5 separate regions of the Homo sapiens genome follow, and all the other regions are linked to region 4. The links come from fine-mapping of genetic effects on gene expression. A gene starts in region 4. Each other region holds a variant in brackets. All regions are shown on one strand. Distances are from middle to middle.

Region 1 (5,884 bases), 51 kb before region 4:
CTGAGCAACAGGAGCTGTGAGACAGGCTGTGCTGGGCAGTGGGGCTGAAGAGTGGATGAAGGATGGGGGAGCAGTGGAGAATCTGCCCTGGACAAGGAGACTCCAGGACACAACCTAAAAGACCAGGGAGATGACTTGACAATGAGGGCCTGAGAACACATGGCGCCCAAGACACAAAGTCCAGAGCAAAAGGATGAGAGCGGGCCCCATTAGAGCGCTGTGGAAATGGCGGTAACTGCCTGCAGCACAGCGGAGCACAGAGGACAGAGGGCAGCTGAGCAGGGAAGTCGGCACCAGGCAGGGCTGTCACAGTAAAAAGTTTGCTCGGGAACAATATTAGGGCTTCAGCAAGGGTGTGACTTGGCAGATTTTATTTAAGATACAGCCATCATCACTCAGATAACTATTGGGAAAATGGAGTTGAACAGAGTAAAACAAGAGATAGATCAGTCAAGAGGCTAAATACCCTAGACAGGAGAGAGATGGCAGGAGCAGGAGGGTGGGAGAAAGGGATGGAATTGGACTGGAAAATATTTAGGAGGTGAAGAGTGAATGTGAGAATTAAAAAAAAAAGGAATGGTTCTAGATGACCTGAGTTTATGGTCTGGGGACATCTTTGACAGAGGCAGGTAATATCGAAGGAGGAGCGGATCTTGGGAAAATGGTGACTTGGGTTTTGAACATGTTGCATTTGACAGGTCTATGAGACATTTAAGAGGCACAGCTAGAAATGTGAGTATGAAACTCAGAGAAGATAGATCCGAGATGGAAATTTAAACTGAGAATGGGCACCACCGCCCCATGAGACAGTACAGTGAGGAGAGCTCATGCCACACTCAAGGCCAGGGAGAAATGGCCAGAAATGTAGAAGCAGAGATGGAAGCCATGTCAGAAGCCAGGGTAGAGGAGTGAATGACAAGGCCAAATGTGGAAGAGAGGACTGAGAGGCGTCCCCTGGACTGGCCAAAGGGAGCTCACTGGTGACGTTGGACAAGCAAGGTTGAGTGTCGTGACTGAGTGCACTGTGGGTAGATGGGTCTTGAGCTGGAGGTGATGAAGAGGGGAGAGCAAGGACAGATTCATTGTTCTCAATGCTGGTAGAGAAGGTAAGACCACAAATAAAACAGTAGCAACAGCGGACATTTCTGTGCTGTTGTACTTAGGATTGGAGAAATTTGAGCCTCTGTTGATGCTCCGAAAGAATGCTTCAAAGCTAGCACCAGGAATAGTTGGTAGGATTAGGGCTACAAGTGAGAACTTTGGTGCCTAAATCCAATTTCTTATTCATATCCCAGAATGAAAAAGAATACTAAGAGGAGAATGGGACTGAAGCAGGCAGATCATCTCTAAGAGGAAATAGGATGTACATTACAGTAAAACACATCCTACGTAAAAAGGAGACTGCATAATTCTCTGAAAAAGTTGGCAGTTGTCTAGATCTGGGTTCCCAAGGAGTGGGGCATGTCTACCCCAGATGGCAGCTGAGTGCCATGCCAGTTTCTCATGGCATGATCAAGAACTCGCTGACCCTACCCCATGCTTGCTAGAGTGCAACCTCCTGCCTGCTCCATCTGCAAGGGTGTTGATCTGACCAACATCCTTGGTCAGATTTTCCAATTACCATTTCAAAGGTAACTGTGAAAATCATTTCTTTCCTTAATACTGAATACCTTTTTTTCTCACTACCATTCCCCTCTCCCCCCTGGCCTTCGGGGCAAGTGTCTTTGTGGGGTGCCCTGAAAGAACAGAGCAGTTGAGCATGGTGTCTAAGAGCCTGGGACCTGCAGCTAGAAGGCTCCACTGTCTATTGTTGTGGGACCCCAAGCAAATCATTTTATTGCTCAGTGCCTGTTTCCTCAGGGAGTATAAATACTACCGGCAAGGCACTTAGAACACCGTCCAGGACTGGGGCTCATAGGAAGTCCTCTGTCTCTGTTAGGCTATCATTCTGCCTCTGACCTGGGGATCTGCAAATTTGATTCAGTCCCTGCCTGCCTTTCCAACTGACACCATGAACCCTGGTTAAAGTAGAAATCAGATACCAGTTTTCAACTCCAGTTTGATTTCCCAGTACAGACAGTTCCCCACTGAGATGCCAGTGGGTGAAATATAACCAGCTTCCTCCATAATTAGTTTCAGTTATTACACCATCTTTCTGGGTAATGAAATTATTCCTTGTCCTTATGGTTTTTACTGACAGCAATAAAAAATTATTTTCAGTCTTATTGCTAGAATTCTTTGGGTTCAGTCATAGGAATACAATTCCCTAGAATAATCAAATTAATTCATTATCTTAGTATTTTACATATTTTTTACTCTAGGGGATATGAGATTGTTGCTATTTGACTATTTCTGACTGACAAAATGAGTATTTCATATGATTCAACCTAATATTTTCAACCACTGATGGAATTTCTATTTATGCAGGTGGGGTGGGGAAAATGAATTGTTTGCTGTCTAAGATAACAATAGAATTCCTTTTAGAGAGGGAACTATTTTTTCTTTGGG[G/T]AAATACGTCAATGGACATTTTGTTTTTGCAGAAGATTAGAGATGAGAGAAGACTAAAAGGAGCAAAATCGCTCTGCTCGATCTGAAGATCTCAGGAGTTCTTGTTTTGCTTTTGTGATGGGGAGAGTGAGATAGGGAGGCCTTGTTAAGCTTCACCTAAATCTACCTCCCAACATATTTTAGGTTTGGCCTAAAGGTTTCTCTGTACATATGAACTGCAACCAAACTGGATATGTAAATGAACTGTAGCCTACTCTTATGCCAATCCCTGAGTTTTGGTCAATCAAAGGCAACCAACTGTTCAAACCAGGATCAAATAAGGCGAACACCAGGCTGTAACCAATCCGGCTGTTCCTATACCTCACTTCTGTTTTCTGTACATCACTTTCCGTTTTCTGTCTATGAATAATCTTTGATCACAGGGCAGTGCCAGGGCCTCTGTGAACTCCTCCTGGTTCAGCAGCTGCCCAACTTGTGAATCGTTCTTTGCTCAGTTAAACTCTGTTAAATTTGTCTAAGGTTATTATTATATCAGCCTAGGCTGCGAGAAAGTGTAGGCCCTGGTGCTAAGGAGGAGGCTGAACAGTGATGCGTGGTGTGGCTACATCATGGCAGAGACGCTTGACGGGGAAGCCTCAGAGCAGCCACATCCCCCACACACTCAGCTCCAAGTTGTGCTCTCCATCTCCACACCCACCCAGCTTTCCTTACTGGCTTAGTAGCATTTCAGGGACGTCAGTACCAGAGTACTGTCTACACTGCAGCTGAGAGAAAGGGCCCTCTTATGGGATGGGACAGGACAGGACAGAAGGGGCACGAGAAGCAGAGGTTCACACTCAAATGCAAGCCTTCCTTGGGGCTGCTCAGAAATAATGCACGACCTGGCAGGCGTTGGCCATCCTGAAACTTCACACATGCAGTTCTAGGAGTTTGGGAGATTGGGCAACATCTGGAATTGTTCACTCTGAGAACGCAAATCATCTGCACCCTTGAAGCTTACTGTCTACATTAACGTGACTTTGCTCTTACATGAAACACTTGTCCAGGAAAATAAAAGCTGCAAATAACTTTGTTTGTTTCAGGAACTTTCTGGAAGAATTCATTCAAATGATCATTAAACGATGAGACTTTTCAATAGATAGCATCAGTGACTATTTATACCTCAAGGTTCTTTGAATCCCTTGCCTCAAAACCCTCACATTACCGCATCCACCAATCCTCATACTATAAACCCCTCCCCTGCTGCACTGAACAGCCTCTAAAACCCAACCCCAAAGCCTCATAAGTACCCCGACTTGGATGCCCCATCTGAGATGCTGCTATTCAGACTATCAGGGCAGGGCTCTCCCAGACCACAGTAAGCAATGAATAACTTCAGCTTATTGACAGGTTGTAGGAGGGTATTTTTAGGGAGCTGGATTTTGCTTGGAATAGGTAGGCCAGGTGCTGGGGATACGAAGGCGAACAAAACTGAACCCCTGACTTCACAAAGCTGATGTTGTGATGCAGCAGACACATTAAACAACTCATCACAAGTAGTTCAATAATTATTTAAGCACGACTATGGTACATGCTACAAAAAAAACTACAGAGCCCCAGGGGAGTGCAGCCTTGACTGGTGTGGTGGGAAGCAGGGGCTTGGGAAGGAGCAACAGGGGTGCCTGCAAGGGAGGCAGAGGAGGTTACAACACAGACCTGTACAGACTACATCGCTCATTTCCATGGTGCAGCAGGGGAGGGCCTTAGGCTTATTAAAAGGGAGCCTGAGTTTGTAAAGTGGGAGAAACACTGCCCTAGCCCACAGGGAAGGGAATGCAAAATATGAGCTGTGCACCAGAGTGCCTCAGATGGGAGGTTGGTGCATGACCAAGGAAGGCCTGGGGAACAGGGTTGATGCCGACGCCGCAGGACTCAGCAGAAGTGAGCCACTGAGTGCTTACCTGGTTGGGGGATACATGGCTGAAGGGGGATTCTGGAGCTAAGTGAAAATTCATATGGGCCTAGGCTTGGGAGGAGGAATCTTGGAGGGAATGTAGAACAATTGCCATATGGTGCCCTGGGAGGAGATGGAAGGTGAGGGCAAGGGAGGGTGTGGTTTTAAGTGGCCTTAAGTCATTCCTGAATTCCAGAGTCTAGAAGATCATAAAGGTAGAGGCTGGTGCCCCGGGGTATGAGAGATTACAACCAGTTTCGTCACAGAATGCAAGAATTGGCCTCGAAAATTCAGGGACAGCTGGTCAATAGAACTGGGCCACTAGGTCTAGATTGACTTGGATACAGCAAGGGAGAAAACCCTACCTTAAATGTGGGGTTCATTCATGGAATAGTAGGGATGAGGCAGGAAAAGCATGCCAGAACTGGAGGGAGGAGAGATAGCCACAACTTTCTGTGGACCATTGGGTTGGGGCAGGTGAGGAGCATGTTAAAAGCCATGTGTTAGCAAGGGTTATCTGGCACAGGAGGCAGCTCTGCTCTTCCCCAGGCTAAAACAAATCACATCTTCAGCAGGATGGGTTGCAAGAGGACTGTGACAGGCAGGGAGACACTCCATGAAAGGCTGAATCCCTGGGGTCTCCCGATGGTACAGAAGGTGTGAAGTAGAGGAGGGGTTACTGAGGCCACATGTGGAGCCTGGGTTCCTAGGAAAGTGAAGATATTGATGACACAGCAGGAAGCCTGGGGGAAGCGGGCTTGGGGAGGTTACAACATCCTCAGCTTGGAATGTGCTGAGTGTGAGGTGGTGGAGGATGTAAAGTCCAAGCAGAGATGGACCATAATGAGGCCCAGAGATGTATCTGCTTCTCCAGTGGACCAGATGCTGACGGAGCCCCAGGACTGGCTGGCTTGCTCCTTGGTTCCCGCAATACCCAGCACCCGGTCTGTGTGCAGTGGCCTCGGTCAGTGTCTAATGTGGCTGCATCGAGCGTCCAAAAGTGGCTGCAGAGGTAATCATGGCGATCTAGTACCACCCACCACATTAGATGCTTGTGTGCATCTCCCCGTCGTTGGGAAGTAATAAGCACTTACTATCAAGCCCACTTATGGACAGGGAGCTAAGCAGTTTATCAGCTAGAAAGTAGCAGAATTGGACTTTGAACCCACTCCCTCTGATGCCAGAGGCTGCTCCTGGCTGTTGGCTTCCTGTGCTCTGTGGACACGGAGCAGAGAGACTGCAGGTTGTAAACCACTAAAAGAGTTGCACGAGAAAGGGAGGCAAGACCTCACCCACTCAATAGAGGCGGAAAACAAGACGCAGGAGGCCCTCACACACATCCCCTCCCCATTATGGGGTAAAAGGAGTGGGAAAAAGTATAATCCTTTCCCTTCTTCCTTCCCACCCTTTATCTGCAGGACAGAACTGAGCTACCACATCTCT
Region 2 (5,884 bases), 290 kb before region 4:
CTCTAGATGCCAGGTCCTGAGGGCAGTTAGGGATAACTGCATTTAGGCTGGGAACGTAATGCCATTCCTACTGCAGTTTGAAATTTGTGGGCTGGCATGGAAAGCCATTGCATGGGGCCTCTCACACAGCACTCAATAAACTCTAACAAACCTCATGATAACCTGTTTCTACATGTGGGACCATTTGTATCTTTCAAAGATCTTCCATGGAACTCTCTGGAAATACTAAAATAGAGATCTTTGTAAGGGCCACTGCACTTTAGTCTGGGCAACATAGCAAGATCCCATCTCAAATAATAATAATAATAATAATAATAGTAGAGGTCTTAGAATCTGAGAGTGGAATTCCAACCCTGGCTCTGTCATGGCACAGTGTGACTATATCACACACAGCTGCTCTGGGTCCTGCTTTTAAGATGTGTACAATGAGTGGCTTGCCTAGCGTTGCTGGTTTTCTAATAAACCCTGACCACACAGAGGTGCCTGGGGAGGAGGAAGGGAGGGAGAGCTCTGTGCTGTCCTTCCAGCTCCTACAGAAGAATCTGTCTTAGTCAGGCCTCCCCATAAGATTTCATTTGAAAGAAAGTTTTGCACTTAGAAAGTAAAGCTCAAAAGCCACAGGACTAGGAGAGAACCAAGACCTTCCCAGCTCTAACATTCTGGAACTGAGCGCCAGAGCCTGGCATGTGACAAGCTGGCATTGCATTCCCCTCAAAGATGTCACTTAGGAAAAAGCTGACTCACTCATAGGAGTTAAATGGATTCTTCTAAGGGAAGACAAGACCAGTAGCTAACTCATTACTGAGCAGGCTCAATAACACTGATTGTCAAAGGAGCACGTCTACTGGTCGCAAAGTGCCATATGGCTGATTGCGTCTAATAAAATGAGCTCATGTTGAATTGACAATCTGTATATGTCTCTGTTGTCCCCAAAAAGACAGCTGAAAATGATTGAGGGCTGCAAGTATTTGGTGACTGCACCATGGATACAGTAATTTAACTCAGCTGTCACTAAGCTTGTGCCAGATTTGGCCTAGCAGACATTTTTGTGTTGATGGGGCGTGTTTCTTGGTGTGTCTCACTACAGGTGATGGGGTCAGTCCCAGCTGAGGGGTCCACATGGACTCCCCAGCAGGGGCAGTGTATGGCTGTGAGAGCTGCTCACACATCTCTAAGTCCTCATCCATTCCTTCTGTTCCCACGCCCTGCCCATCTCCTCCCACCAGATACAGTGCCAGGTGGGGAAGGCAAGTGAGGACGGTGGGGAGGGGGGTGCAGTGGCAAAGGCCCCCCAACACAGTCTGCTTTGTGACTTGTGGCTGGAGGACTCCACCTAGCACCTTCCTTCTGAGCTGAGCTCCAGCCTGGGCCCCAGTTGCCCCGAGTCCTGGTTAGAGTTCAGAGCTGCAGCTCAGGGTGGTAGCTGCAAGCCCCATGCGGCTACTGAGCACTCTAAATGTGGCAATTCCAAACTGACACTGAATTTCAAGCCCTTGGTACTAGAAAAAGAGACTATAAAAATCTTACAAATTTTATACGATTACATGTTGGAATGATAATGATTTTTATATACAAAGTATATTGCTAAAGTTAATTTCACCTGTTTCTTTTTATTATTATTACTTCTTAGTTAGCCACTAGAAAATGTAAGATGACGTGTGTGGCTCACATTATAATTCTGTTGGGCGCCACTGATCTAGAAAGAATTCGATTTGTAAAGGGGCCCAGATGGACCATTTCAGGGGATTCGGCAAGTGTTTGCCGAGCACCTTCTGTGTGCAGCTCATCTGCCGCACAGATGGCTGTCTGAGCTGCTGGGGGAGGTGGGAGGTGGGGTCGGAGCAGGGAGCTGCCCCATTGGAGGAGCGTGGGGAGCAGTGCCCATCCCTGAGCTGAACCACGGACATCTTCCTCAGGAAGCACTTTGAGTATCTGGGCCCAGCACAGCCCGGAACCCTCCCAGTACCTCTAAGGTTACAAGTAATTGTCTAAGGCCTACGTTATTCCTGCACACCCAAACACAGCCCTCAGCATCTCATGGGAAAAGAGAGCCTTATCTCCAAGATGCACTTTGAAGTTTAAAAATAAAAGTGGGGGTGACCAGTGCAGTGCTGGTTGGCCTCAGCCCATGATGGGGGCTTGGGAGAGTTTTCTTCTCTTTCTTCTCTTCCTCCCTCCCCTTCCTCCCTTCCATTCTCCTCTCCTTCCTTCCTTTCATCCTTTCCTTCATTCCTTCCTTCCTCCCTCCCCTTCCTTCCTTCCATCCTCCTCTCCTCTCCTCTCCTCTCCTCTCCTCTCCTCTCCTCTCCTCCCCTCCCCTCCCCTCCCCTCCCCTCCCCTCCCCTCCCCTCTCCTCTCCTTCCCTGCCTCCCTCCCTTTGATGCTTAAGACTCAGCACAGGAAGAGAGAGCTCCTAGGAACATGAAAGCTGAAGATAAACCCCAAAGCCTCCTTTGTCTTCCCTTAATCTGCTTTAAGCTCCCACCAGCTCAAGCCTAATTGAGTTAGTTCTTGAGTGAAAGGGAGCTTTGGTGATGTTAAACTGTTATTTAATCACAAGTGGCAGGTGGGATGTGGGGCAAAGGGCAGGAAAAGTGGGTCTGTGGGAACGTAGAGCTGAGCAAAGCCTTCCTTCCTCCCCTCGCATCAGGGAAG[G/A]CCCGCGATGCCCTTTCATTAGTATTTCAGCCAGTGTTTTCCAAATTGCTGACCATAAACCGTTAGGGGATTGGGAAATCAGTTTCGTGGATTTCAACGAGCATTGTTGAAATGTGGGGGGTGGTGCGGCCTGGGAAGAGTAGAACAGAAAGTAACAGAAGGCTTTGCAGGTAGTGAAAGGAAGTATTGCTTCCTGAAACTTTTGACTTAGATGTGAGTCAGCTGTGTGTGCATGTGCACTTAATTGCAACAGAAAATGCACTTTTTGCTGTGGGTCATGAGCAAAAAAGTTTGAAAGCTTCTCTCTGATGCTCCTAGAAATAGAGTCCCTTCTGTGCGTGGGTCAGGAGAAATGATAAGCAACAGAGGATGGGGAACAGGAATCCTTGGCTGTGTGATAGAAAAGGCTGTGGGGAGGTGCGAGGTGGGAGGTGGGAGAAGCAGCAGGGTCTGAGTGCCCGGGCCTGGGCAGCCTGTTAAACTTCATGGCCCCATGGTCTGTTTGCTTCTGCACCTGCAGCAGGGAGCAGAGGCCAGGCCCCAGGGGGCACGTGGCTCCACATTCTGAAAATCAAATTAGTGGACAAGGGAATGGAAGGCCTCTTTGAGGGGCTCTGTGCCACATGTATTCACCTGGGATCGGGGAAGGAAGGATGACAATGGAGAGAGTGTTCTGGGAGGAAATTCAGTTCTCACCTGAGTAGACTGTCTGTGGGGGGCTTTGCAGATGCTCAGCGTTGCAGAAGATGACGTTTCTATTTCCACTGTTAAAGAACCCGTCTTGGCCAGGCGCAGTGGCTCACACCTATAATCCCAGCACTTTGGGAGGCCGAGGTGGGTGGATCACGAGATCAGGAGTTTGAGACCAGCCTGGCCAATGTGGTGAAACCCTGTCTCTACTAAAAATACAAAAAATTAGCAGGGTGTGGTGGCACACGCCTGTAATCCCAGCTACTCGGGAGGCTGAGGAAGGAGAATCACTTGAATCCAGGAGGCGGAGGTTGCAGTGAGCTGAGATCGTGCCATTGCACTCCAGCCTGGGCGACAGAGCAAGACTCCATCTCGAGAAGAAGAAGAAGAAAAAAGGAACCCCTCTTATTCTTTCGCCATTCGTATTTTATGTGTATAACAGTCAATATTATGATGAGCACTGGGATTCATACTAACTCATTCTATTGCTAAAACAATTTTTTCACTGAGCTTTTTCTTTTGGTGCCTCTTAAATAATCTCACTATTAAGCCAAAAAAATCAGAAAGTGAGCTATTTGGGAAAAAACAAGCACAAAGATGAACTCAACCCTGGTTGAAATATAGCCCTGGGGAAGGGAACTACTTGATCTCCCAAAGCACAAAGATCGGCGACTTTGTAGCACTTTGAGTGTCTGGGCCTGGCAGGCAGCTCTGAATGTTCCTGTTGCCTCTAAGGTTACAAATGATTGTCTAAGGCCTATGTTACACCTTCATACCCATGTACGACACTCAGCCTCTCATGAGAAAAGAAAGCTTTATCTCTAAGATGAACTTTGAGGTTTAAAAATAAAAGCAGGGCTGCCGTTTCCCAGGGCCACTGTTGAGACTGCGCAGAATGGGCTATTTCTTTACAAATAAACAAGCGTCTTACAGGCTGACCAGCTAACTGGCATTTCAGGTGGCTGAAACTTTTCCTTTGAGGCCTACCCAGGTGAAGGGACATTTACTTGGGTTTAACATGTTTGCATCTGAGGAGAAATTTTTAAAAGCATTTTTCTTATGGAGAAAGGGAAACATTTTGCTATTTATTTATTTATTTATATTTTAGAGATGGAGTCTCACTTCGTCACCCAGGCTGGAGAGCAGTGGCGTGATCATAGCTCACCGCAGCCTCGACCTGGGCTCAAGGAATTGTCCCAGGAAACTGTTCTTTTCAAATGGCGGGGAGACAGAAAATGCTGATGATCCACAGTGCTGCTCAAGTTTAGAATGCAACAAAGAAACAGCCAGTTGTTGTGAAATTATTCGCCAATCATTACACACAATGACAGGAAATTATTTATAGAAAAAATCCCAACATAATTTCTTTCCCCAGCATCCCAGGGGACAAACCAGGGAAGGTAGTGCAGGAACAAGCCCAGCAGTGAGCTGTCACCTGTGGCACTGCTCAGCCACCTGCTGTGTCTTCAGTAGCTTCCCCTTCAGGCATGGGGCTTTCTTCCTGCCTGTACCTTAGTGTATCCCAGCAGGATGAAAGCACTTCTGAGACAGATGTTTCTGGGTCCTAGTGTTTCTCTTTGCCCTGCCCTGGGTTTAGTATGCACACATCCACACTGGCGGTTGCTCCTAGCCCCCAGGGCCTATGTCCTGCGACCCTTCTTGGCCTTTACTTCTCATGGCATGAAGGAGGGAAAGGCCCAAAGAAGCGAAGGCCCTGCATGAGCTAGGTGGCTGGGGAGGGGTTGAGCAGGCTCATAATTAGGAAGATGACAGACAAGGATGCTGGCATCCTTCACACTGATGTGCTGTGTAAAGTCCGGCTCGCAGTGTGACCCTGTCACCCCCAGAGGACCAGGACCATTGAGCGGCACCTTCTGACTGGCACAGCTCCTTTGAGGCTCTCAGAGGCGCAGGTTTTCCTCCAGGCCTGGTGGCTCTTCCTGGAGGGGATGGTGCTGCCATCCTCTCTAGCAGTCCAGGGTCTGCACCGTGGGCTTGGTGGGGCCCAGTGTCCTCGGGTCACAGCTCTCAGCAGAATTCTGCTTCTCTGCTGCCTGTGGTAGCTCCTCCACCAGGACCCAGCCAGTGCCAGGAGGGTGGAGTGGGTCCCGGAGGCAGGAACGGGGTAGCAGATCCCTGGAGAGCTGAGCCTGAAGGGACCATGGGCCAGCTTGGGAAGTAAAAAGAACAGTAGAGAGGCTGGAGCCCAGGTGTGGGTCTCAACTGTGGGTCTCAGGACAAGCGAGGGGGTATGTCCCCAGAGGGATGGGAAAGTGGGCCCAAGGCTGAGTGAAAGCACATTGCCAGGAAGAGCCAGGGGACGGAGAGGGAGCCAGAGAAGCAGAGGATTCATCTGCTGTCCTGGGAACCTGTGAGTCACTGCTGCTGAGTCATCAGAGCTGCCTAGAAGCTGCTTGGTTGAACCCAGGAGCAGAATGGGAAGGACCAGAAAGGAAGTTCTTCTCCTTCTCCGGGACCCTGGAAAAGGATCATGGGCGTGGCTGGGCCAGGCAGCACCATGAGGGCATCAGCCTCAGGT
Region 3 (5,884 bases), 520 kb before region 4:
GAGGTACATAATTCTACCTCTAAGGCAGCGTCATCAAGATTATATTTACATGTGTTTAGTTCAGTGAAGTAGTTGTCTCAGGTGCTTGTTTAGATCTAACATCTTCAAGGAATGTCAGGAAGCCTAGAGGCTGAAGAAAGATGCAGAATATTTTCTAAATGTCTGGCAATGAGGAAAATCCGTCAGTATTTTCCTTGTGATTAACTTGTTGATGGATTTTCTTTTAAAGAAGTCAAGTAAAGAGAAACTATCCTAAGGGAGCGGGAACAAAGGCGGGACTATTCTGACTCACTCACCTCTGTGTTGATGGTGCCCTTTGGCGTCAGTTTCAAAGTAATTCATTCACATCTGCTCGGCAAGTACACATTGCATGCTCATTAATTCCAGGTGCTGTTAGGGTTCCCGGGGATGCAGCAGTAAAGAAAGCAGAGTTCCTGACCTCATGGAGCAATACTTGCATGTGGGAGGAGACAGATGTGGCAAATAAGTAAATATATAGCACATCAGCGGTGATAAGTAAGTGAAAAAAACGAATGGTGAGGGGGGTTGGGCCTGCCTGGAGGGCGAGAGGGCGGGGGAAGCCATAGTTCTGCTTTCAGTAGGGTGCCTGCAGGATTCTTCCATAAGGAGACATTTGTACCCAGACCGAAGGGGAAGGGAGGGAGCAAAGGTTGTGGTATCTGGGGGAAGAGCCCTCCAGAAGACAAAGACCCTGAGATGGGAGCATACTGATGGGGCCTGCAGGGACAGCAGCCGGGGCAGGGAGATCAATGGAATGGGGAGTGAACCAGGCTGTGTAGGGCAGAATATGGGGTCTTGTAGGCCACTGAAAGCATTTTTCTATTTTTAAATTCTGAGTGAGACCTGATGCGATTAAGGGATAGGGCACAAGACAGTTACTAACAAGAGGCACTAGGATGCTAAAGACTCATGGAGACTAGGCTGTAAGGGACAAAGTCCAGACGTGGGGAGCCATTAGGGGCTGTTGCCCATCCTGAAAGATGATAGAGGCTTGCGGGGGATGGGGAGGGAGGTGACAGGAAATGGCTGGATTCTGGATATAATTGAAGGCAGAATCCACTGGATTTGCTGGGAGATGAAGAGTGGGGTTTTTCCTGAGCAGTGGAGTAGATAATGGCTCTATAATCAGAGAAGGTTTTCGGCAGATGCGTTTCAGTTATCTACTGCTGAGTGACAAACAAACCAACCATCCTGCACTTAGTGGCATGAAACATCAGCAATCATTTGATTTGCTCACCAGTTGCAGCCTGGGCAGGGTTCGATGGGGACGGCTGCAGGTGAGATTAGTTAGGGCAGCTCAAAGGTTGGCTGGAGCCATCTGAGGCTTGTTACTCACACGTCTGGCTGTGGATGCTGGCTGTCAGCTGGGCCGTCAGCTGCGATGTCAGCCAGAACTCCTGCACCTCCTCGTGTTGGGGTTCACTCCCTCATGGCATGGCGGCTGGGCTCCAAAAGTGGCCTCCCAAGAAAACAAGATATGAAGCAGGTGACATTTTCATGCCTTTGCCTCAGAACTCCCATAGTCTCATTTCTGCTGTCCTTTATTGCTTGAAGGAGTCACGAAGATTGGTCCGAGTTCAAAGGAAGGAGACACGGACCCTGGCCCTGGATGGGAGGGTGTCGATGTCACATTGTAGAAGAACATGTGGGATAGGAGGTATTGTGCCCATCTTTGGTCAATGTCGTCTGCCACGTGAAGGATGCAGAAATCAAGATTTGTAGAGCATAAGCTGCTTGTTAACTATCACAGAGGGATGTTGAGTTGGCAGATGGATGTATGAGTCAAGAGAGGTCAAGGTTGGGGAAATACACGTTGGAGGCTTTATTATACAGTTGATATTTAAAGCCACCTGGAATGAGGAGAGACGTGGTGGTGGGAGGAGGAGGAGGAGAGGAAGGAGGATCAGGATAAGAGAGAGTTTATTAAGCATTGCATTTTTTTTTTTTGAGATGGAGTCTCGCGTTGTCACCCAGGCTGGAGTGCAATGGCGCCATCTTGCCCCACTGCAACGTCCGCCTCCCAGGTTCAAGCGATTCTCCTGCCTCAGCCTCCCCAGTAGCTGGGATTATAAGCACATGCTGCCATGCACAGCTAATTTTTTGTATTTTAGTAGAGACGAGGTTTCACCGTGTTGCCCAAGCTGGTCTCGAACTCCTGAGCTCAGGCAATCCACCTGCCTCAGCCTCCCAAAGTGCTAGGACTACAGATGTGAGCCACCGTGCCCAGCCACATTGCATAATTTTTATTGAGTAGCTCTATACTTAGCCTCGTGGGAGGTACTTTGCACAGCTTAGAGCAAGATGAAGGCCTCCCTGCCCCAGCCCCAGCCCACAGTGAAGCAGGCCTCACTCTGTACCACCATAGAACTCGGCTCAGTTTCTGACTCTGTATTTTTCTCTTGCTCCCCGTGCCCCTGGTGCTGGAGCGCTTAATTAGATCTAACAAGGTCTCTTTTGTCCTTGTGCTTTGGAGTGTCTTCAGGCTTTCCCTGGATAATGATAGCCAAAAGTATTCAGAGTTTTAGAAAACCTAAAACCTAAAACCTTCAAAAGGGCAATGTTGAGAAATAAAGAAATGAATTATTCCATTGTTAAGCAACTCATGTCTGAGTAAGAGAAAACTTGAATTTATGGTGGTTAAAGTATATGTGAGATATTAAAAACAAAAGAGAGAGAGAAAGAAAAAAAACCCAGAAAGCCATTTTTTGATCCTCAAGAGATCAGATGAAGTTTCTATGTGAAGCATTGAGAGATCTTTATTTTATGATAAGGCTAAATGCCAGATTGTCAAAAAAAGGGTCAAATATAAACTTCTTTGCATAATACGTAAATCCATTAATAATCTGACCCTTTCTTTTCCAATCTCCTCTACTAGCAACCTCCAGTATATTCTGGTTACCCTGCTCCAAAAATGCTCTAAACATGCCATGCCTGTGTACTACTTCCCCATGGTTTATTCTCCCTCTCCATTTCTGGCCAACTCCTACTCATCCTTTAAAACTCAGCTTGAATGTCATCTCCTCTACAAAGCAGGTGGTTGTAGTCACCTCTATTAGTGTTCCCATCTTTTGTATATACTTCCTATGATTCTGATCACATTCTGCTTAATATCTTATCACATCCTGTCATGTATATGCTCATCTCCTCTAGCAGTCAGTTTTTTAAGGGCAGTAAACCTGGGTGCTTTTTTGTTTTTTGCAGTCCCAGTCCCAGCAGTGCTGAGCAACAGAAGAGATAAACACCACAGTTTTTAGGAAGTTCAGTTGC[A/T]TAAGAGATGACAGTAGAGGCCCCTGCATGTCTATTGCAGACAATTACTTACGGGCTCACAAAAGAATATTCTCTGGTTTTGCCCAGTGGGATGCACTGTCCTACAAAGGCTGAAGATTTTGGGGAGGCAACAGACACACCAAACAGACTTCCTTTTCTATATCTTTCAGTTGCTGACACTATTAAGAAATAGAGACTGGGCATGGTGGCTCACACGTGTAATCCCAACACTTTGGGAGGCCGAGGTGGAGGATTGCTTATGACCAGGAGTTTGAGACCAGCTGGGCAACATAGTGAGACCCCATCTCTACCACATACACACACACACACACACACACACGCAAATTAGCTGGGCGTGGTGGCAAGCCCCTGTAGTCCCAGCTACTCAGGAGGCTGAGGTGGGAGGATCACTTGAGCCTGGGATGTTGAGGCTGCAGTGAATCATGATTGCACCATCGCATTCTAGCCTGGGAGACAGAGCAAGACCTTGTCTCAGGAAGGAAGGAAGGAAGGAAGGGGAGAGAGAGAGAGAAAGAAAGAAAGAAGGAAAGAAAGGAAGAAAGAGAGAAAGAGAGAGAGGAAGGAAGGAAAGAAAGAAAGAAAAGGAAGTAGAGAAAGAAAGGAAGGCAGGCAGGCAGGCAGGAAGGAGGAATTCCCTTCTGATTTGGTAGGAATTAGAAGATTCCTCTACTCTATCATTGTCATTGTAAAACATCTCTAGAGTAGTTGTTTGAGGCACACAAACTCCTTTCCAACATGATATTACAATACCCAGATTTCTGGTGTCAAGCCACATGTCAGTATGAACGGTCCTGCACAGATGACGTGTTCAACTTTCATGGTTGTCTCTACCTTCCATTCCAGCCTGCTCCGCCTCCTGGATTTTCCAGAAACCTCTGGCTTCTCCCTTCTTCCTCAGGGGTGTGTGGCTCTCTGGTGGGGAATTATCAACCAACATAGTGGGAGATGCTGAAGCCCGAGCGATGAGCAAAGTGAACACAGAGCACTGGGAAGCTGAGGTGCAGATGCACGAAGGGAAGAAGCTGGGAAGAAGCTGGAGGAAAGGAGTGAAGGAAATAGGATGATGGAGCCAAAACTGGGACTAGGGAGGCCAGACCTGGGAAAGAAGGTGGGAGCTGAAGTGGGGATCCTGAGGATGTTAACTGAAAAACCACGAGATCTATAAGCAACTCTTTAACCGAAAGGAGAGACTCTGCTGGTAGAAGTTTACCTGTTGGGGGTGACTCAGGCAGAGCTAAGCTAGCCCTGCAATGACTCCAAATGATCCTGCAAGGTGGGGGCAGACACAGGAGAGGAAAACAGCCCCATCCTGGCCTGCTGGTCAAAGCACACACGTGTGCTCTCTTCTCTCCCTCCCTCTCTGCTCTGTCTCTCTCTCTCCCTCCTTTTCTCTCTGTTTCTGTCTTTCTCTCTCTGTACCTTGGCAGCTAACCTGGCATTCTGAACTCCACCCCCAACCCTGTCGGTGCCTCTTTTGACCCTGAGTAGCTCTTTTCTCTCTTTCCCTACTTCCTACTTCTTACCACTGCCTGGAGAGGTTATTCTTAGCCACTTGCTGAACAGTTACTTGTTTCATTTAAACAAACAAAAAAGAAACAAAACCTGCCTAATGTGGCAGTAGACTTGAATTTAAAGAAAATGTATTTCAAACTGGGAAGAAGAGAAAAATTTTTTCTTAAATGCAACTTATTTTCATTGATTCTGAAAGCAATACATATTTATTGTAGAGAGAAATTGGATTGTACAGAGAAGCACAAAGAATAAAATTATAGTTATCCATTATTCCATGGTCAGAGATAACTGGAATTAACATAAGGATATTGCTTTGGCTTGAATGTTTGTGTCTTTTCCAAAATTCATGCTGAGGCCGGGCGCGGTGGCTCACCCCTGTAATCCCAGCACTTTGTGAGGCTGAGGCAGGTGGATTGCCTGAGCTCAGGAGTTCTAGACCAGCCTGGCCAACATGGTGAAACCCCAACTCTACTAAAAATACAAAAAATTAGCCAGGCGTGGCGGTGCATGCCTGTAATCCCAGCTACTCAGGAGGCTGAGGCACAAGAATCGTTTGAACCTGGGAGGCGGAGGTTGCAGTGAGCTGAGATTGCACCACTGCACTCCAGCCTGGGTGACAGAACGAGACTCTGTCACAAACAAACAAACAAAACCAAAATTCGAGTTGAAAGATAATCCCCAATGTAACAGTATTAAGAAAGAGGTGAGGTCTTTAGGAGGTGATTAGACCGTGAGGACTCTGCTCGCATGATTGGATTAATGCCTCATAAAAGGACTTGAGGGAGCCAGTTCAGCCCCTTCTTCTCTTCCACCAAGTGAAGACTCAGGGTTTGTCTTCTCCCTCAGCAACAGGGTGCCATCACAGAAGCAGAGAGCAGCCCTCAGCAGACATCAGACATGCTGGTGCCTTGATCTTGGGCTTCCCAGTCTCCACAACTGTGACAAATACACTTCTATTGTTGATAAATTACCCAGTCTGTGATATTTTGTTACAGCAGCACAGACTAAAACAGAAATATATGCTTTTTAGCCTTCTACACACACACACACACACACACACACA
Region 4 (5,884 bases):
GAAATCTTTAAAAGGCTGTTTCCTTTCCCAGCACTGAGCTGTAACGTGATACTGACCTGTCCGGCAGTGTCACAGAGTTGGAGTCTCACGGGCCGCCCATCCACAGACACCACCGCTTAAAAACAAAACCAAAATGACAATCAGGAGGTGTCTTTTAACCCCTTTCGGAATACTAATAGTTTTAGCTTTCACTATCATTCTCACTCCAAACCCCTTTGCTCCTATTTTAGGTCCTCTAATGAATTAAAGACTAGCCAAAAACAAGGAGGCCCTGTGGAGGCATTTTTGTATACAAACCCACGGCTGGCAAGTCACTCCATTACCGTGAACCAGGCAGCAAATCCCTGAACGCTTTGATGGTGACCCTAAAAAGGCCTATGCTTTTCTCCCAGTCCTGGAAGATTTATTTTCCTGTCACACTTGTTTCAAAGGACCTAAAAACAACACTGGGGGTAAATGGGAAGCAACCCTGCAGTTTTAAATCAGTGGAAAACCTCACAAATAATTCTGTTTTCCCTTGGGAAAGGTTCCCCAACTTCAGGGTTTATCATACAATTCTAGTGTGTTTTGAGAACATGTGCAAACACAGGCTGCCCGCATTGTCCTGTTTAAGAAATGAGGGCACTCCTTATCTCTATGTCAGGTCAAAAGGAGGATTAAAAAAGAAAAAAGAAAGCCATGGCCCCCTTTCCACTGGGATCCGGGGACTCGGGGAGTGTGGAGAGGCCTGCAGCAGGACATGTTGTGGAGGTTTCTATTTTAATTAAGCAGTCAGTTTTGTCTCTTTCTACACAACTTTCTAATTGTTTCTAAATATTTATACTAGTCAGCTGCAGGGGTGGGGTGGGGGGAGGGGAAGAAACAATACCCTGCGGTGGGAACCCACCAGTACAGCACCCATTTCTCTAAGGTACCTTTGGGATGAAAGGAAGGTCAGAGAAGCAATTTTTTTTTAAAGAAGCAAGACAGTTAAGTGTTTCATACTAGTTTCTGTGAATTTTAACTTTTTCTTAAATTTCAAAAAGACCTGAATAGCAAGATAGAGAATTCCTTTCTCTTTGTATCTACCAAGGGAAATGGCATCGCACCCGGTACATAGGAGCTTTAAGTAGCTTAAAGGGATCCTGAAAAGATACCAACAATCAGAATCCGAGCCCATGTGGGCAGGGAAGGTGGTGGGGCTCAGAAGAAAGAAATGGTGTTTACTCTTCAGGTTTCATCCAAACCTAAGCCTTCACGAGGGCCGCTCGCGCTTTTTCACTAAATCAAGTGTTTTCCCGGCGTCTCCGCGGCTCTTTAAAGCGGAGACGCCCCTTGTGAGCTGAGCCGCCTAAAAGCAAAGGAGCGACGCTCAGGTAAAGGCACCTGCGCGTCACCTTCTGATTGAAACTCTGCAGCGGCGCCAGCGACGTCGCCCTCAGGAAACTTTGCTCTATGCAACAAACTGACCGGGCACCCTGAACTCAACCTGTTTCACTCCTACTTATCTGTTGCTTAAATTGTGAGATTTTTTTTTTTTTTTTTTTTGGCAAGGCTCTGACTGCCGCTCCGCCCTCCTCTCTCCAAGCCCACTCCGCCGTGGTCCTTTCGTGTTAGCTCCGCGCTTGCCCGGTCCCTGAGACTCAGGAAACGTCCTGCACTCCTCATTTGTCCGGCTTCCCAGCTGGAGCCGCGCCCGGGGCCCTGCAGCCCCCTTGGGAACCTCGCGACCCTCGCGCCACCTTCCTTCCCCTGGGTGGACCGCGGCCACGCGCCCCCGGCCCCGGCCCCCCGGCCAGCTCACCGGAGAAGTTGTCGAAGGCAGTAGGGATGTACTCGGTGGGGTAGCCGTTGGTGGTGTAGCTCACCACCAGGCTCGTCTTGCCCACCGCGCCGTCGCCGACCAGCACGCACTTGACGCCGCGCCCCTCGGCACCCCCCGCACGCCCCCGGCCCCCCGGCTCCCCAGGCCCGCGTCCCCCGCGTCCACCGCGCTCCCGACGCGGCGGCACCGGAGGCGCCTCGCAGCGGTCGGGGAACGCGGGGTCCCCCTGCTGCGGGGGCATCGATCCGCGAGCGCGGGCTTGCGGTCGCGGGCTAGCAGGGCCCGGCCCGACCGCCCCTCCGCCCCGGAGGGTTGCGGTAGGGAGGAGCTGTCACCGACAGCTGCGGGCGCGTCCCCGGCCCTGGAGAGTGGCGGTTCCGGGCCGCACGGCCAGTAGACAAAGGCGGCCAGGGAGGGTCGTGGCTCCGCGCTCCGGCGGCGCCAGCCGCTCTGCCCTGCGCTGTTGGAGGACAGCGGTCCGAGCGCCGTGGATCCCAAGCGCTCTGTCTCCGCCCGGCTTCCCGGCGACACGACGCGTGGGGGGCGGGCAGGCGGGCGGGCTGGCGGGGAGGGAAAAGAGGCGGGTCTGGCCGAGCGGCTCGGTCCCCGCGCCAAGACCACAGCGCCCCCCGCCTGCGCGCCGCGCGCCTGCACCCGCGCCCGAGGCGCCGCCGCGACCAGGCGGGGACTGCGAACACTGGCGCGGGAGGACCTGGAACACACGTTCCGGGGGACCCCGCGCACCCGGTCCGGGAAGCGACGCCCGAAGGAGCCGGGCCAGCCTCCGCAGCCTCCTCCCCAGCTCCCAAGAGGGTGACCACCGCGCGACTGGCCCGGGAGGTTCCGCTTTCTGGCGCCCACGCGAGCCAGGAAGCCTGAGCCGCCTCCTATTCACTCCGTGGAGCCCCCGGCTGGCCACGGCTCCACCCAGGGGGAAAAATGAAGTGTCCTGGAGGCCTGTCCTGCGAATGAGATTGAATTAACAGACAGCTTTTTTCCTTAAGTCTAACTGCAGCTGATCGTGTGATTTTTTCTCATTTTGAAGCAAAAGGATGCCAGCTCCATTGTGAATGCTCCTTTGACTTTGTCTTTCGGCATGCCGTGAACCTTTATACATGTATGCTCCAGAAATTTTTTTATACCCCCAATTCCTTCATTTACTTAAAGGTAATTCGGAGACATTAATATGTCTGAAAAAATATTCCGTTTCCCTTTGATTCATTTCTCTCTCTGCCTTCCTTCTACATGTGGTCAACAGTCTATTCAGAAAAAGGACGCCTCTTAGCCAAGTCAGAATACCAAGAGTCCTGGGGGTGTACAGCGTGGTGTGAGAAGGGCCACATATTATTAATACACATTGATACTAGTGGTAGTAAAAATAACAATAACAAATACTGAACTTTCATAATGTGTCAGATACTGTTGTAAGCACTCTTCAAGAACTAATTCTTTTAATCTTAACATTACTTACAGATGAGAACACCTGAGGCACAGAGATATTAAGTAACGTTTTGGGATTCCACAAGCTAGTAAGTGGCAATGCCAGGATCCAAACCCAAATAGTCTAGCCCCAGAGCCTGAGCTTCTAACCAAAATCCTGGAGGCAAAAATAAGTCAGTATGATAAACGTAATCTTGAACGTATGGCCATGGTCAGAATGCAGAGATGGATTTATCAAGAAGTTAGAAGCTTGAATCCAGGACCCCTGACTTGCAAAGGACACTTTCACATTGGAAGACCTAGCAATGTGTACACGTGGTAATATGTTTCTGTAAATTTTGAAAAAAAAAAAAGTATTTTAATCACCACCAGTTATGTTCACTGTCTTTTTAAACTGTAACTTACCCTCATATTGAGTGACTTTGAAGAGGCCATGAAGATTTTGGGGATCAGCCAAAGAAAGTGAAGTTGGGGAGACCCAAACAGGTTGTTTGGGTGTAATGGGATACAGAATCAGGATGAAGGTGAGATAAGGGGGATGTCAAGGATGCAAAATTTATGACAAATTGAGCATTCAGAGGCAATATCAAAAAACAACAAATTTAGAGGGCCCTTACTCTCAGGGTCAGGCAAGTGCCAATGTTAAGTTTTGAGCCTCAGGTACCTGACTTGCCTCTCCCTCGCCCTGGCTGTGATGACAGGATATATTTATGTGGTTTACAGTTCTCCTATGTAGATATGTTGTTGCTAGCCATCCAGGTATAGGAATGGCTACCACTGACATACCTATGACCCTCTGTGAGAGTCACATTGGTGCCCTTAACTGTCTTACTTTCCCCAACACTAGAAGGGTTCCAGTAGCAAGAGTAGCAGAGCTTGAGATGGGCAGAGCTGGAAGCTAGTCTGGCAATTCTTTCCATCATAAAGCACCTAATATCGGCTGGTGCGGTGGCTCACGCCTGTAATCCCAACACTTTGGGGGGCTGAAGCAGTCAGACCGGTTGAGGCCACGAGTTCGAGACCAGCTTGGCCAACATGGCGAAACCCTGTCTCTACCAAAAATAAAAAAATTAGCCAGGTGTGGTGACTCACACCTGTAATCCAAATACTCCAGAGGCTGAGGTAGGAGGATCACTTGAGCCTGGGAAGTCGAGGCTCCAGTGAGCCCTTGATCAACCAATATACTCTAGCCTGGGCGAGAGTGAGACACTGTCTCAAAAAGAAACAAACAGAAGAAAACACAACATTGTTAGAGAAGGTTTGGTTCTCTCTACTAAACCTGATCAAAACAGAAGTTGTCTGCTGTCAGAAATGTACCTGTACTCTAAATGCAGCAGATACACTTACAAATGCATCATACATTTTTGGAGAAAAATCACATGAAATGAATGATCTGAATTCCCATGTTTGTAAGGACATGAGGCTGTAGTAGTACAACAAAAAGCAAGTTCACCTGTGTGTGAAGTAACTTCCTATTGTTCTTATAGAAAATATCTTACAAAACTGAAGAAGTGATCAAAGGGTATGCAACTGAAAAATGAAAATAATGTCATAGAAGTGTGTCAAGCAGTTTATTAAAATGTCATGTCTTATGTATTTTGTTTAAGTTTATGGTGTTTGTTAGCCTTTTAAAATTTGTAACTTATTGTGATGCATTTCTCACTTTAAACATTTGTTTTTGTATCTAATTTTCTATTCTTAATTTTGTATTTTTTTTTCTTAATGAAGTCTCACAAATGTGATAAGCCTCAGGCCCTACAAAACTTGGCTTTGCCCCTCCATCTGGCCAGCTGTCAGTTTTTGTGTCCTGTGCGTCCCCCTCTTGCTTTTCCCCTTCTCATGCTGAATATCATCCCACGCCCACTCATTTGGGCCCGTTTTTCTGGACACAACTTAGTCAGCTCCCTGCATCCTTATCTAAAATGCCGGGAACTAATGTTTGCCCTATTCATGAGACTCTTCTGTAGGCAACATAGGAAATCAGACCCCACGCCAAACAGTTCGGTATTTCATCCAAGTCCAAAAGCAGAGAGATGACAGAATGCCTACCACTTTACCCCTTTACAGAATGCCTTTACTTTACCCCTTTTTACGTTGAACTGTCCCGCACCCACTCATTTGGGTCCATGTTTCTGGGCTCGACTTAATCAGTCCCCTACAGCCTTATCTAAAATGCTTGGAACTAATGCTACAAGAAGCCCTCCAAGGTGTGTGGGTTCAAGTTGTATGATATATTTGTTTGTTTATTTGCTTATTGTCTGTCTCCTCTTACAAGCTCCATGAAATCAGAAACTTAATGTTGCTCATTCCTATATCCCACACTTAGAAGCACGTGGGGCAAGTAGTAGGTGCTTAATAAATACTTAAGCAGTGGTAAATACGTAAGTGAAAGGAAAACATGTTTTGAACTTGACGGTTCTGCAAAAAAGAAAGAAAGAAAAGGAGAAGAATGTAAAACATGGACTCTCAAAACATGGACAGTTGTATTTTTATGCTTTTATAAAATATTTTTAGAATGAATGAAGGAAATTTGACCACTTCTTGCAGCTATTAATAGAAAACCATGTCTTTGCTCAGTTTTAAGACAAAAAATGCATTACACCTCATGTATTCCCATTTGTTTTTCACCAAGACAGTACA
Region 5 (5,884 bases), 31 kb before region 4:
CTCCTAATCACTGCAACACACATTAGTTTTATCACACTTCAAATCTAAAATAAAATCATCTCCCCTCAATCATAGCCAGTGCCTCCTCCTGACTTTGTATTTCTGCCCCTGGTGCAGTTATCTTCCCTTTCCTGGCTTAAAATCTTAGTGTGATTGTTGAGCACAGCTTCTGCTGTGGTCAATCATTTCTAGAGATTCCACCCACAATGTGACATTGGCACTCACCTTTTCATTCCCATGCCCCCCTCTCTCGAGCTCAGAGCCTCCTCCCCTTCTGTCTACACCACGGTGACAGATCCTGACTAATCTCCTGCTCTCTCTTCACCCTTCTCTTCTCCTCCAGGTATCTGTTTCTAAACTGAAGACCAGATCAGTTCTTTTTTCTATGTAAACTACCTTCTTGTTCTACCACTGGTCTTCCATAGTCTGGTCCTTCCTCATCTATCTGTCCAGTCTTATTTCCCATGAGTCTTTCACCTCAATTCCACACGTCAGATATCCCTGTTAGATCTGTTTTCCACGTACTTGCGATTCTTTGTAATAGAGTTACTCTTCCTGTTCTGCCTTAACCTCTTGTCTCCTTCTCCAAGTGGCAAGTTCTGGCACCTCTTCAAGATCCGGCTCAAATGTCATCTCCTCTATGAAATCTTTACTGACTTGTCCTATTCCAGGCAAAATTAATCATTCCTTCTTCCTTTTTCAATTTAGAAAAAATCACATTCATTCTTTAATGTTTGACTCAAGAAAGACCTCTTATGTTCCTTCTTTCTGTATTAGTTTGACAGGGCTGCCATAATAAACACCACTGACTTGGTGGCTTAAACAACAAAAATGTATTCCTCACAGTCCTCGAGGCTAGAAGTGTGAGATCAAGGCGTTGGCAGGTTTGGTTTTTTTCTGAGACCTCCCTCCTTGGTTTGCAGATGGTCACCTTCTCCTGTGTCCTTACATGGTCTTCCCTCCATGTGTGTCTGTGTCCTAATCTCCCCTTCTTACCAGTCCTACTAGATCAGGAGCTACCCATATGACCTCATTTTACCTTAATTACCTCTTTAAAAATCCTGTTTCCAAATAGAGTCATACTCTGAGGTACTGGTGGTTAGGACTTCAATGTATGAATTTTGAGGGTGCACAATTCAGCCCAAAACATCTTCCTTCCTTCCTTTTCTCCTTCTCCTCCTTATCCTTCTTCTCTTTCTCCTTCTCTCTCTCTCCCCCTTTTTCTCTTTCTTTTATATAAAAAAGATAAATTGATCCCTGAACTTTCAGCAGGAATAAAGAGCAGTAAAGACTTGGCCCTCGTCCTCAAGCAGTATCTAGTCTCTCACAGGGGACAGACATGGGACCGAATAAGCCCAAGCTCCCTTCAGAAGAAGCCAACAGCCTCTGTGGCACTCTCTCAGGGCCCCATGCCCCAGGTTCCAGTGCAGATCCAAGCATTGTACTAGAGTGCCTCGTCTAGCTTCCTGTCACAGGGAGAAATTGTGAGCTTCTGAGGTCAGGGCCACCTTAGTCATCTCCAAATTTACAGTGCCTTGAAATGTACCTGGTACATAATAAATGATAAACAAATATTGGTTGAATTGAACCCAAATAAATTGATATTATATTTTTACTCCTGAAGGGTTTTTTGCTGATGGATTAACTTTTTCATCAGACTTAAACAAGGGACAAGTTTCTTTGTTAAAGTCAGCAGCTCGAAAGTGATCAGTTAGATGGCATTTTGCAATTCTTTTTCTTTTTTTTAGAAACAGAGTCTCACTCTGTTGCCCAGGCTAGAGTGCATGGCTCACTGCAGCCTTGACCTCCTGGACTCAAGTGATCCTTCTGCCTCAGTCTCCCAAAATAGCTGGGACTACAGGTGTGTGCCACCATGCCCAGATAGTTTTTTTTTTTTTTTAATTTTTTATAGAAACAGGGTCTTGCTATGTTCCCCAGGCTGGACTTGAACTCCTGGGCTCAACTGATCCTCCTGCCTCAGCCTCCCAAAATGCTAAGATTACAGGCATGAACCACCCGTAATTTGCTTTTTAAACTGATAAAAATATAAATTAATATCTTTGAAAAGGCAATGTTTCTACAATTTTTTTGGGAAAATGACTTCTGAGTTTCCTTCTATTTAGGAATCTCTCAGGTCTTTCCCACTGCAATAAGTTGTGTATATAAAAATTATAACTGCAATAACAAATTAATATTAGTTGCATTTTGATGTGAACCAAAAATAAAAATAAGCCTCATACTATGTGAAGGTGATAAGCAAGGAGAATCTTACAAAGACTTGAAAATATTTTGAGAAAATAAAAACTGCAAAATTAGAAGCATTCAACTTAATTATTACATAAAGTTTAAACAACTAATGAGTAGTGTTAATGGTCCGTTCTAGTTTAAGGTTACTGGTGACAGTATTTGTAACTGGCTGTTGGGTCACGTGAATGATCTACCATAATTGGCAGACAGAAAGTCCCACTTTCCTTTTACTTTGGAGACTAATGGTAATTTTCCCCCAGCCTCATCTCTATCTCCTGTCTTGGAGTGAGGTTCTGTAGAAGGTCTGCGTGTGACCGCTTGTGGCTGTCGGTGCCTTGCTGTAGCCTTCGAGGTGGAACCCAAGCTGGGCGCTGCAGGAGAGGAAACAAGGCCTCACTGAGGGGCAGAAACCAGGAAGCTGGGCCAGCCACGCCCTGAAGACTCTGCTCCTCTCTGTAGAAGTAGAGACCAGGTGTGACTTCCCATGGGGTGG[G/A]GGTGGTGAGAGTTGAGACAAACTGTCCCTGAAAGTGAAGAGGCCCCAGGCGGAGCACCTTGCACTCTGGAAGAGTGACACAGGACCCACTGGAACTAAAACTGTAATGTGATGAGATGTTGTCAAAGCAAAGTAACAACAACAATAAAAATACTAGTAGGCACTTACATAGCACTATGAGCCGGTGTTCTGGCAGATTTACTTATATATTAATACATTATGAACTATGTTTTTGTTTAATAGGACACACTTATCAGTTGCAAAAGACTACTAATGCCTACATTTTTCTGGCAAGATGTCATTTTCCATTAAGGCTCTATAAGGCTGGGTGTAGTGGCTCACATCTGTAATCCCAGCACTTTGGGAGGCTAAGGCAGGAAGATCATGAGCTCAGGAGTTAGAGACCAGCCTAGGCAACACAGCAGGATACTGTCTCTACAAAAAAATCAAAAAATTAGCAGGTCATGGTGGCTCCTGTAGTGGCAGCTACTCTGGAGACTGAGGTGGGAGGATCACTTGAGCCCGAGAAGTCAAGGCTGCACTGAACTATGATGGTGCCACTGCACTCCAGCCTGGTTGACTAAGCAAGATAGTGTTTCAAAAAAAAAAAAAAGAGAGAGAGAGAGATAGAAAGAAAAGGCTCCTTTAAATCCAGCCTTCAGCAGATGAGGGGGCTAAAACGGGCATGCCTTATATTAAGAGGGCTATTAGGGATTGCCCAGAAAATCTTTTTTTTTAAGCTGTTTTTGCCACATAATTAAGCTCATAAAATTTTCTTTAAAGAACCAAATAGGTTATATAACCAAAAGCCAAAGTCAAGTGATTCTTATGAGCAAACAACATATAGTTAATCCACAAAATTATTTTGGGACCTCACACTGTTATAAAGTTTTTCCTTACACAGAAACAAAAGCTTCTTCCCATAACATCCTTCTTTATTCTTTATATCTCTTTCGACAGCTCGAAGTGTGTTTGGTCCTCTGAGAAATCTCTGACCAAATGCAGCAGTCATTTGCCCTGGGTGGTGCCTTTCCTCTTTACTAAACCTAATCAATTCTTCTAACTCTTAATTATGTGAAATGTATATAGAGTATATGTTTATATAAAATATATGTATAGAAATGTGTACTGTGTAGTTTAGCAGTGGATGCTGTTTGCATGGTTACACAAGTACATGATGCATTGATAATTCATACACAAGAAGTTCTTTTGGGATGGACTCTGGTAGGCGGAATGGGAATACGCTATACAGCTGATCTTTGAACAACAGGGGTTTGAACTGCATAGGTCCACTTACACACAGATTTTTTTCTATACGAATTACACAGACTGCACTGGCCTCTCCTGCCTCCCCTTCCACCTCCATCACCTCTTCTGCTTCTGCCACCCCTGAGACATCAAGACCAATCCCTCTTCTTCCTCCTCCTCCTCAGCCTACTCAACATCAAGGCGAAGAAAAGGAAGACCTTTATGATGATCCACTTCCACTTAATAAATAATAAATATATTTTCTCTTCCTTTTGATTTTCTTAATAATATTTTCTTTTCTCTGGCTTACTTTATTGTAAGAATACCATATATAATACATATAACATACAAAATATATGTTAATTGGTAAGGCTTCTGGTCAACAGTAGGCTATTAGTAGTTAAGTTTTGGGGCAGTCATACATGGATTTTCCACTGCGTGGGGGTGTTGGTCTCCAAACCCCACATTGTTTAGGGGTCAACTGTACTGGCAGTGCTGGCCTGTTTTCTCCTTGGGGTACAGTCAGCATGCATGTCATTATAGTTTTACTTTCTCCCAAGTGTATTTCATTGCTTCAGTTTTTTGTCTTTGGTTTGAATTTCTTTTTTCATCAGAATTTATAGACCATCTGCAAAGCAGTAACTTTGGAGGGATTACAATGCTTCTATCAGTCAGCATCCCAGCTGGAAAGAGATGACGCACTCAAAGGGGTCACTGAACGGACTTAAATTGACAGACTATCTAGAGAAACCAGCACAGGATTGAGGAGACTGACAAGCTATGGTAAAGCCCCAGGAATCAGCAACAAGGGAGGCCTTTATCACCCGTCAGCCTGTTGGGAAGTGGCAGGCAGGGGACAAATATGAGAACTCAGAGATCTGGCTGTGAAGAGGGGCTGCTTGCAGGATCTGAGACTCTAGAAGAGAAACAGATTTCTCTTAGGGAAGGAGCAGGCAAGAAACCCCCAACCTCTCTCCACCTTTTCCATCTCCCCAGTTCCTGCTGCAGACCAAACCTTGTGAAAAGCAGAAATCTAAAAGATGAAGGGGGAAGAAGTTAGTCTTCCAGGCCACACAGCAGGGTCAGTAGGGGTCTGGAGGGGCAAAGAGAAAATCCAGGTCTGCACAAAATGCAACGAGAGAAGCATAGTTTCTCAGAGAGCGGGCACTGTGCACTCTGCATCTTTTCATGACCGTATCTAGTGTCTAGTGCAGGGCTTGACACCCATGACATTCTCAACAAGGGTCTTACTGAATCCGCGAACAGATCAGAAGTCAGTTGTTCCTGAAATAGAAGGCATTGTAACTGACAACAGAATACAAATGAACTGTGGCTTTTTAAAACAACCACATATTACTATTATCTAAAACTTACTCTTCTAAACAATGTCTTTATTAATCAGCTAATATTAAAGGAGAATCTGATAACTCTGATTTTTCTTTCCATCAACCTGTCCTTAAGCTGCACACAGAAAACTGTCTTCAGAAGGGAGTTTCTGATGTTGTTAAGCACCTAAAATTTGTGTAAGCAAATAAAAGAGCAAAGCCCTCCTAAATAGAGTATCAAGTTTGCAAGACTTGGCCACGGGAGGCCAATTCCAGTTCTAGTTCTGATTCTACTGCTTGTGCTCCCTGGAGTAGGTTACCTATACTCTGCATGCCTCCATTTCTTCAGCAAAAATAGGAGTAATAGCAGTACCTGTCTCTTAGACACTCATTTCTATTAACTGTCCTGCCTTCACCAAACGCTATTATATAGCACACTGCATGTTTCAGTCAGTCAATAACTTCTATTGCTTCCAACAACTCAAAATATCTTGTTTTAATCTGTCATTGTTGGTTCTCTCTAATTGATCCCCTTGCCTGGTTACTAGAATCTACCTTTCTGTCTAGCTTA

Direction of the effects. Alleles are on the strand shown, and positions count from the first base shown. SD is a standard deviation of normalised expression in the study named. Not every link is listed here.
For the expression in monocytes after LPS of the gene that starts at base 2,309 in region 4, allele T in region 1 goes with a higher level than allele G (large effect, 1.7 SD a copy in Fairfax 2014).

Evidence for each region. PIP is the estimated chance that this variant, and not a neighbour inherited with it, causes the effect. A credible set is the group of variants that fine-mapping cannot tell apart.
Region 1: its variant is the best candidate, but not a certain one, in a credible set for the expression of RHOU in monocytes after LPS (Fairfax 2014, PIP 0.54).
Region 2: its variant is the best candidate, but not a certain one, in a credible set for the expression of RHOU in whole blood (TOPMed, PIP 0.83).
Region 3: its variant is the best candidate, but not a certain one, in a credible set for the expression of RHOU in whole blood (TOPMed, PIP 0.54).
Region 5: its variant is the best candidate, but not a certain one, in a credible set for the expression of RHOU in whole blood (INTERVAL, PIP 0.69).

What each region holds. Positions count from the first base shown.
Region 1 is chr1:228,783,140-228,789,023 of GRCh38, reverse strand. No RefSeq gene overlaps it. Among named protein-coding and RNA genes, the nearest start is that of RHOU, 51 kb to the right of the region's middle. The variant G/T (reference allele first, on the strand shown) is at 2,509.
Region 2 is chr1:229,024,663-229,030,546 of GRCh38, reverse strand. No RefSeq gene overlaps it. Among named protein-coding and RNA genes, the nearest start is that of LINC02815, 130 kb to the left of the region's middle. RefSeq lists an enhancer at 2,286-3,023. The variant G/A (reference allele first, on the strand shown) is at 2,656.
Region 3 is chr1:229,247,895-229,253,778 of GRCh38, reverse strand. TMEM78 (transmembrane protein 78) reads right to left here and starts at 4,143. Exons shown (of 1, transcript NR_172940.1): 1 at 1,969-4,143. The region is part of intron 1 of LOC102723935 (a long non-coding RNA gene); the gene reads left to right. LOC124904540 (a long non-coding RNA gene) reads right to left here and starts at 429. Exons shown (of 2, transcript XR_007066924.1): 1 at 297-429. RefSeq lists enhancers at 1-6, 7-881. The variant A/T (reference allele first, on the strand shown) is at 3,289.
Region 4 is chr1:228,731,904-228,737,787 of GRCh38, reverse strand. It overlaps RHOU (ras homolog family member U), which reads right to left and starts at 2,309. Exons shown (of 3, transcript NM_021205.6): 1 at 1,784-2,309; 2 at 57-115. The coding sequence starts at 2,045.
Region 5 is chr1:228,762,548-228,768,431 of GRCh38, reverse strand. No RefSeq gene overlaps it. Among named protein-coding and RNA genes, the nearest start is that of RHOU, 30 kb to the right of the region's middle. The variant G/A (reference allele first, on the strand shown) is at 2,741.